Regions from separate parts of the Homo sapiens genome. Here region 2 is linked to region 1. The links come from fine-mapping of genetic effects on gene expression. A gene starts in region 1. The other region holds a variant in brackets. All regions are shown on one strand. Distances are from middle to middle. Region 1 holds the start of ITGAL-AS1 (ITGAL antisense RNA 1). Region 2 overlaps ZG16 (zymogen granule protein 16).

What was found. PIP is the estimated chance that this variant, and not a neighbour inherited with it, causes the effect. A credible set is the group of variants that fine-mapping cannot tell apart.
Region 2: its variant is the best candidate, but not a certain one, in a credible set for the expression of ITGAL-AS1 in subcutaneous fat (GTEx, PIP 0.62).

What each region holds. Positions count from the first base shown.
Region 1 is chr16:30,497,357-30,501,749 of GRCh38, reverse strand. It overlaps ITGAL-AS1 (ITGAL antisense RNA 1), which reads left to right and starts at 2,196. Exons shown (of 2, transcript NR_186415.1): 1 at 2,196-2,386; 2 at 2,599-3,320. ITGAL (integrin subunit alpha L) reads right to left here. Exons shown (of 31, transcript NM_002209.3): 16 at 2,516-2,676; 17 at 2,261-2,412.
Region 2 is chr16:29,779,019-29,783,411 of GRCh38, reverse strand. It overlaps ZG16 (zymogen granule protein 16), which reads right to left. Exons shown (of 4, transcript NM_152338.4): 2 at 4,091-4,152; 3 at 3,775-3,907; 4 at 439-3,308. The coding sequence starts at 4,145. The coding sequence ends at 2,993. It overlaps LOC124903675 (a long non-coding RNA gene), which reads left to right. Exons shown (of 2, transcript XR_007065048.1): 2 at 158-445. Among named protein-coding and RNA genes, the nearest start is that of ZG16, 3.0 kb to the right of the region's middle. The variant G/C (reference allele first, on the strand shown) is at 2,336.

The DNA.
Region 1 (4,393 bases):
CTTTTTTAAAAACTTTTTTTTTCCATGTACCATACATGAGACTTAATTTAAAAACTTTAAAAAATCCCTAAGTTTTTCTGGGATGCATGATATGTACCTGGCAAATAACAACATACCATGATGATTGAATATTCTGTAAAAATTAAATATTTTAATTTTTTTTTTTTTTTTTGAGATGGAGTTTCACTCTTGTTGCTCAGGCTGGAGTGCAATGGCACGATCTCGGCTCACTGCAACCTCCATCTCCTGGGTTCAAGTGATTTTCCTGCCGCAGCCTCCCAAGTAGCTGGAATTACAGGCATGGGCCACCACGCCCAGCTAATTTTGTACATTTTTAGTAGAGATGGGGTTTCTCCATGTTGGCCAGGCTGGTCTTGGACTGCCAATCTCAGGTGATCTGCCCACCTCGGCATCCCAAAGTGCTGGGATTACAGGTATGAACCACCGTGCCCAGCCAAACATTTTAATATTTCATAATTAAAAATTATGAAAGCTGTGTAGCAGCATTAATATATAATGTATGAAAAGAGTAGGGAAAAATAGTAACTACATTGCCATTGTAATCATGTTAAAAATGCCCATAAATATATTAAAAAGTAGAAGCTGCTGGGCACGGTGGCTCATGCCCGTAATCCCAGCACTTTTGGAGGCCAAGGTAAGAGGATTACTTGATGCCAAGGGTTTTAGACCAGCCTGGGCAACACAGCAAGACCTTGTCTCTACAAAAACTATTTTTTTTTTTTTTGAGATGGAGTTTCACTCTTGTTGCCCAGGCTGGAGTGCAATGGCACGATCTTGGCTCACTGCAACCTCTGCCTCCTGGGTTCAAGCAATTCTCCTGCCTCAGCCTCCCAAGTAGCTGGGATCACAGGCATGTGCCAACACACGCAGCTAATTTTGTATTTTTAGTAGAGATGGGGTTTCACCATGTTGGCCAGGCTGGTCTCGAACTCCTGACCTCAGGTGATCCACCCACCTTGGCCTCCCAAAGTGCTGAGCCACCGCGCTTGGCCTACAAAAACATTTTTAAAAATTATCCAGATGTGGTGGTGCATGCCTGTAGTCCTAGCTACTCGGGAGGCTGAGGTGGGAGGATCATTTGAGCCCAGAAGTTGGAGGCTACAGTGAGCCATGATTGCATCACTCCACTCCAGCCTGGACGATAGAGCAAGGCCCTGTCTCTAAAAAAATTTTTTTAATAAAAAATTAAAAAAATTAAAAACCTAGAAGCAGCCAGGCACAGTGGTGTGCACTTGTAGTCCCTGCTACTCAGGAAGCTGAGGCAAGAGAACCTCTTGAGGCCAGAAGTTAGAGTCCAGCCTGGGCAACAAAGTAAGACCCCCATCTCTAAAAATATAAAATATGGCCGGGGGCAGTGGCTCATGCCTGCAATCCCAGCACTTTGGGAGGCCGAGGTAGGAGGATCACCTGAGGTCAGGAGTTCGAGACCAGCCTGGCCAACATGGTGAAACCCCAACTCTACTAAAAATATAAAAATTAGTTGGGCATGGTGGCATGCACCTGTAATCCCAGCTACTCGGGAGGCTGAGGCAGGAGAATCGCTTGAACCCGGGAGGCAGAGGCTGTAGTGAGCCGAGATCATGCCACTGCACTCCAGCCTGGGTGATAGAGCGAGACTCTGTCTCAAATAAATAAATAAATAAATAAATAAATAAATAAATAAATAAATAATATAAAATAGGCCAGGAGCGATGGCTCATGCCTGTAATCCCAGCACTTTGGGAGGCCAATGCAGGCAGATCACCAGAGGTCAGGAGTTCGAGACCAGCCTGACTAACATGGTGAAACCCTATCTCTCCCAAAAATACAAAAATTAGCTAGGCATAGTGGCAGGTGCCTGTAATCCCAGGTACTCGGGAGACTGAGGCAGGAGAATTGCTTGAACCCAGGAGGTGGAGGTGGCCATGAGCCGAGATCGTGCTGTAGTAAGTGAGACCGTGCCACTGCACTACAGCCTGGGTGACAGAGCGAGACTCTGTGTCAAAAAAAAAAAAATATATATATATATATATATACATATATATATATACACATATATATACATATATATACACATATATATATAATTTAAAAAAAACACTAGAAGAAAATATGCTAAGGGTGTTATTACTACCATTGCACAGGAGAGGAAGTGACAGCACAGAGGGATGGAAGTGACGTGTCACCCACTGGACAGTGACGGAGCTGAGCCTGCCCCTGCAGGTAGCTCATCCCAGAGCATTGGCGCTGGCTCCCTTACCGGGAAATGAAATGAGAAGTCAGTGCATGACATGCTGGTGGTGACAGCTATATTCCTTCTGAGTTCATGTCTCCCTCCTGGGAACAACCCCCGTCTTCTGGTCCGGTGGCCATCCAGCTGCAGAGTGTAAGTGAGATTGGCAACCAGGCGGCCTGGGCAGGGCGGAAAAGGCAAGAGTTAAATGGTGGGGGATCCCAGGCCATAAGCCTGGATTTGGGGCGGCAGCTGCCCTGGGAGCAGGAGGAGAGCTCTGACCTTGGAACTGGGGGATGAGAGACTTGATCTGGAAACAGATTGTGATATTAACTCCTTCTTTCATCTTGTTACTGGTTGAATAGGAGCACTCCACTTCATGCACTGGGATCTCAGCTGGAGAGAAGGACATCAGGGTGACCATATCCACCACGGGCCGGGAGCTGCAGGGCAGAAGGCAACCAACTCTCTCCCTCCAACCCAACTGCACGTCCCCCCTCAGATGTGGGGCTCCCGCCAGCAAAGCCAGAGAACTCTCCTTCCCTAAAGCAGACCTCAACATGTCACTGTCTCCTCTTAAGGAAAATAATAATGATACTTTTTATTTATTTATTTTGAGAGAGGGTCTCACCCTGTTGCCCAGGCTGGAGTGCAGTGGCATGATAACAGCTCACTACAGCCTCGGCCTCCCAGGCTCTAGTAATCCTCCCACCTCAGCCTCCCAAGGATCTGGGACCACAGGCATGTGCCACCACACCTGGCTAACTTTAAATAAATTTTTGTAGAGAAGGGACCTTCCTATGTTGTCCAGGGTGGTCTTGAACTCCTGAGCTCAAGCAATCCTCCCGGCTTGGGCTCCCAAAGTGCTGGGATTATAGGCATGAGCCACCATGCCTGGCCAATAATGGTGATAACTAATTAGGGCTCCCAGTTCATTCTAGCAGCCTCTGACCCATTTTCCATGAAGAAGAGAAAGCTCTTAGGAAGAGAAATCATACTGAGTTACTTTCATGCTTATGTTTAAGCCTTCAGTGATGCTTGCATGAATTTTATTATGCTTCATAATAAAGTTGCAGCTTTTGTTGTTGTTAGAGCCTCGCTTTGTTGCTCAGGCTGGAGTGCAGTGGTGCAGTCATAGCTCACTGCATCCTCACACTCCTGGCCTCCAGCGATCCTCTTGTCTCAGACTCCTGTGTAGCTGGGATTACGGGAGTGAGCCCCAGTGCCTGGCTCCTATTTTTTTTTTTTTTTTTGAGATCCTCCTCTTGGGCTCAAGCAATTCTCCTGCCTCAGCCTCCCGAGTAGCTGGGATTACAGGCGCATGCCACCATGCCCAGCTAATTTTTGTATTTTTAGTAGAGATGGGGTTTCAACAGGTTGGCCAGGCTGGTCTTGAACTCCTGACTAAGCCCCCCGTGCCTCCCATTGAAGATGTATACAGCCCCCTGCTCCTCCAGAGGGGCCCCCACAACCACGTCCACCTGACCTCAAATGATCCACCCACCTCGGCCTCCCAAAGTGCTGGATTACAGGCATGAGTCATTGCATCCGGCCTATTTATTATTTTTTTGTGGTAGGATCTCACTCTGTAGCTCAGGCTGGAGTACAGTGGCATGATCACAGCTCACTGCAACCTCGACCTCCCAGGCTCAAGTCATCCTCCTGCCTTAGCCTCCCAAGTAGCTGGGCCTACAGTCATGCACCACCATACCTGGCCAATTAAAAAAAAAAAAGAAAAGGGCTGGGCACGGTGGCTCACTCTGTAATCCTAGCACTTTGGGAGGCCGAGACGGGCGGATCCCTTGAGGTCAGGAGTTCAAAACCAGCCTGGCCAACATGGCGAAACCCCGTCTCTACTAAAAATACAAAAAAATTAGCAGGGCATGGTGGTGCATGCCTGTGATCCCAGCTACTTGGGAGGCTGATGCAGGAGAATCGCTTGAACCCAGGAGGTGGAGGTTACAGTGAGCCAAGATCGCACCACTGCACTCTGGCCTGGGCAACAGTGCAAGACTCTCTCTCAAAAGAAAAAAAAAAAGTACAGATGGTGTCCCACTGTGTTGCCCAGGCTGGTCTCAAACTCTTGAGCTCAAGTAATCTTCCTGCCACAGCCTCTCAAAGTGCTGGGATTACCCACATGAGCCACCACACCCTGTTAAT
Region 2 (4,393 bases), 720 kb after region 1:
ATAGGCTCTCTGCAAGAAGAAAAATATGGCTCTTTTTGCCCGACCCCGCAGGCAGTCAGACCTTATGGTTATCTTCCCTTTTTGTTCCATTTTGTTAGGATATGACATATGTGACTCCATTTTGATACTGATAACATTCTTTTTTTTTTTTTTTTAGATGAAATCTCGCTCTGTCATCCAGGCTGGAGTGCAGTCGCACTATCTCAACTCATTGTAACCTCTGCACTTGTTCCCTAAAATCACTGTTATTCTGTTCTTTTTTAAGGTGCACTGATTTCATATTGTTCAAATGCACATTTACAATCAGATTTCATATTGTTCAAACACACATGTTTTACAATCAATTTGTTAGTTAATGCAATCATCACAGGGTCCTGAGGTGACGTACATTCTCAGCTTATGAAGATAACAGGATTGAGATTAAAATAAAGACAGGCATAAGAAATTATAAGAGTATTATTTGGGAACTGATAAATGTTCATGAAATCTTCACAATTTATGTTTAGTGATTGCAGTAAAGACAGGCATAAGAAAGTATAAAAGTATTAATTTTGGGAACTGGTAAATGTCCATGAAATCTTCACAATTTATGTTCCTCAGCTGTGGCTCCAGCCAGTCCCTCCGTTCGGGGTCCCTGACTTCCCGCAACAGTTGGGCCACCATATCTGTTTATAGAACCAATTGGATGGAGATTTGTGATAAGGGAATCCTTCCTCCTCACCACAGTGCCCCTGCCAAAGAAGAGGCTGGGGCTCTGCAGCTGCTGAAGTCACTGGATAGGCTGGGATAGATAGTCCCAATGCAAGCCAATGGCATTGATTAGGGAATCACTGATGAATCAGAGCATGATGCTGTGTTGCGTTTCAGGTGGGACTTGAACTTTTCAGGACCTGCATACACACTGAGACCTTCAAAGTGGTAACAGGGATGACAGATTTCTTGCCAGTCCCACTGCACATGAAGGCTGGTTGAGCCCTAGAAGATCCTACGGGGAACTTCAACTCCTCATTTTGCCTACAAACAGGTTGCTATGTTGCCCGGGCTGGCCTTAAACTCCTGGGCTCAAGCGACCCTCCTGGGATTACAAGTGTGCTGGGATTACAGGTGTGAGCCCCCTTGCCCAACTACCATATCCTTTTCTTGAGCCAACTGCATGGAGGTTAATGATAGAGAAGTCCTCATTCCCCACCACAGGGCCCCTGCCATAGAGGAGGCTGGGGCTCCGTGGCGGCTGCATTCACTGGGGCAGACATATTGCTAGCCCCGTATTGGCAGTGATGAGGGATCCAGCACTGTAACTGATGAGTTAAAGGACAGCATTTGGGTGCAAGAAGATGGCACTAAAACTGGTGCCTGTGTTTCCCAAGAGGCAGAGCAGCTCTTGTCTGTCACAAAGACCAGCTTCCTCAGGTAGTGTGTGAACCTGCCTGATCTGATGCCCAACATGATGGGTGATCCTTTCACCTGAACTTGGTCCACAGACTGCCTCTCCCTGCCATTGTCTGCTGATTCTCCACCCAGTCCTCCATGGTGTTATCAGGTGCAATGCTTAATTTAGGTGTCAGGTTGGTTCCATTTTGTTAGGATGTGACATATGTTACTCCATTTTGATACTGATAACATTCCTTTTTTTTTTAGATGGAGTCTCACTCTGTCATCCAGGCTGGGGTGCAGTTGTGCTGTCTCAACTCATTGTAACCTCTGCCTCCAGCATTCAAGTGATTCTCATGCCTCAGCCTCCCAAGTAGCTGGGATTACAGGTGACTGCCACCACACCTGGCTAATTTTTGTATTTTTAGTAGAGACAGGGTTTTACCATGTTGGAGGCTTGTCTCCAACTCCTGACCTCAAATGATCTGCCTGCCTTGGCCTCCCAAAGTGCTGGGATTACAGGTGTGAGCACTGTGCCCAGCCAGATATTGATAACTTTTACAAAACTAACGTATACCTTCACTCATTTTAATTTTCTTCCCTTCTTAAAATTTCTTTCCCCAACTACATAACCATCCTCTTCTATCTCTTTTGAGACCTCACCAGTGATCTCTTTTCAGAATCTCCAGCCTCTTTCTCTTTCTTCCTCTTTATCATGTGAACATGCTTGTGACTCTCCTGTCTAGGATTTTAAAAAGACACAAAACCCTTTTTCCTTACACCCCCGAAAACTGACTTGCCTATTTCTGGCAAACCACAGCCAAACTTCTTGAAACACTCGATTCTTGCTGCCTGTGTCTTCTCACCTCCCATTCATTCCTTAATGAGTTCAGCCTAGTGTCAGCCTCCCGCAGTCCACTGTAACCTTCTGATGGCTAAAGCCTAAGAGCATAGTGTGGGCAGG[G/C]TTTCCACTGCTGAGAAGGTGGTGGCTTCCTGAGGAAGGAGGAATCCCAGATCTGAGAGGGCTTAGCAGGACACCGGGGCTCATGGGTAGAGGTGAGGAGGAACTGGGCCTGGTAACAGGGCAGGGTCCTCGGGCACAGACTTCAGCTAAGTTTCAGGAGTCAGGTGGGTTCTGGGAAAGAACAAAGGCTAATGGTCCTGGCCACCCACACACAGCAAGTGAGTTCACCACTTTCTCAAGGGGAGGACCAGGGGTGAGGAGAGCTGGAGAGTGGGACATCTGGGGTTTTGGTGTAAGCCACAACTAGGCCTTGCCCTCAGACCCATGACTCCAGTTTGGATCAATGTTCCAAGGAGCTGTCCTTGAAGAGCGTTGATGCAAGCCAGAATCTCATCTCCTCTTGATAAATTATAGCACAAAGCCCAGGATTCTTACATACCTCTCCCTCATCTTCCCATCTTCCAGACAGATGTCCAAAGCCAGCCAGAAGTGAGATTTGCACGTCCCCGGCTAAGTCAGGAGGCAGATATCCCAGCCACAGATGCCCCCACACAGACTAGCCTTAACCATATTTTTTTTATTGAGCCATTTGGATGGGGGTTAGTGATAAGGGAGTTCTTACTCCTCATCACAGTGCCCCTGCCAAGGAGAGGAGGCTCAGCATCTGCTGCAGCTACTGGGGTAAACATCCCAGTGCAGGCCAATGGCATCGATGAGAGAACCAGACCGGCCACTGATGAAGCGGAGCACGGTGTTGGGGTGCAAGGGGACGGCATTGAAACTTGTGCCACTGTCTTTCCCAAAAGACAGATAGCGGCCCTTGTCTGTCACAAATACCAGCTTCTTCAGGTACCACTTGTACTTCCCAGAAACCTGGATCACTGATTCCCCAGGGTGCAGAAAGATCTCCTCCAGGTCTCCGTTGCGACCACCCACATAGTCGCTCCACACCTTGCCATAGCGCACCTGAAGACTGAGGAAGAGGGGAGGAAGGAAGGAGAAAGAAAGGTGATGATAGGGATGAGAGGTCTCTGGCTAGTCCTACAGACTGTGAAGCCTGGGTGAACCCTGGAAGATCCTACAGGGAACTTCAACTCATTTTGCCAACAAAGAGACTCTGTCACCCAGGCTGGAGTGCAGTGGCATGATCTTGGCTCACTGCAGCCTCAACATCCTGGGCTCAGGCAATCCTCCCGCCTCTCCCTCCTGAGTAGTTGAGGCTACAGGTACTCACCACCATGCCTGGCTAATTTTTTTGTTTTTCTTCGGTAGAGATGGGGTCTTGGTACCTGGAGCATGGTTTAAATCCCTGGCATCCCTGGCATCTTGCCCAGGCTGAGCTAGAACTCCTGGCCTCAAGCGATCTGCCTCTGCCTCCCAAAGCATTGTAATGACAGATGTGAGCCACCGCGCCCAGCCAGGAATTCAAAGAATCTTACCCTACGATGTAGTATGTGTTGACTCGGACCCGGAGGGCGGTGATGGGGCCGTCCAACTGGTTGCCAGAATGAGAGAATCGCTTTCCACCACCACCTCCATACTCTCCACTATAGGAGGAAGACCTGGCCTGAACTGGAGGGGCAAGCAGGAGTTGGAGGGAGAAATCTTCCAGGAGTTCAGTTTCTCTGCATCACCCCTGTTCCTCCGACAACTCAGCTCCCCACCCCAAGCCAACCTCCAAAAGCCTTGGCCAACAGCAGTGCCCAAGGCTGCCTTCCCAAGTCCCCAATACCAGGCTCCTGGTATCTCACTTACTGGCATTGCCAGAGGCTGAGGCACAGAGAAGGGCTAGGAGAGCGACTGTCAACATTCTGGGGCTGGAGTGGGAAGAAAAGAGCAAATGAAGATTCACCTTCTTCCTTGTTGACTTGATTGACCCAGGCACTCCTGACCTGCAGCTCAGACCAAGCCTTCTTCGTCCTTCAACTTAGACCTAGCAGACCCAGTCTTGAGCTTAGAAAGGACTGTCCATAGCCTGTAGTCCTGTTCCTCTCTGATGCTACCTTCAATGTCCCTGACCCCTCCAGCTCTCCCTGGTCTGGCTGTAGCCAAGCCCTC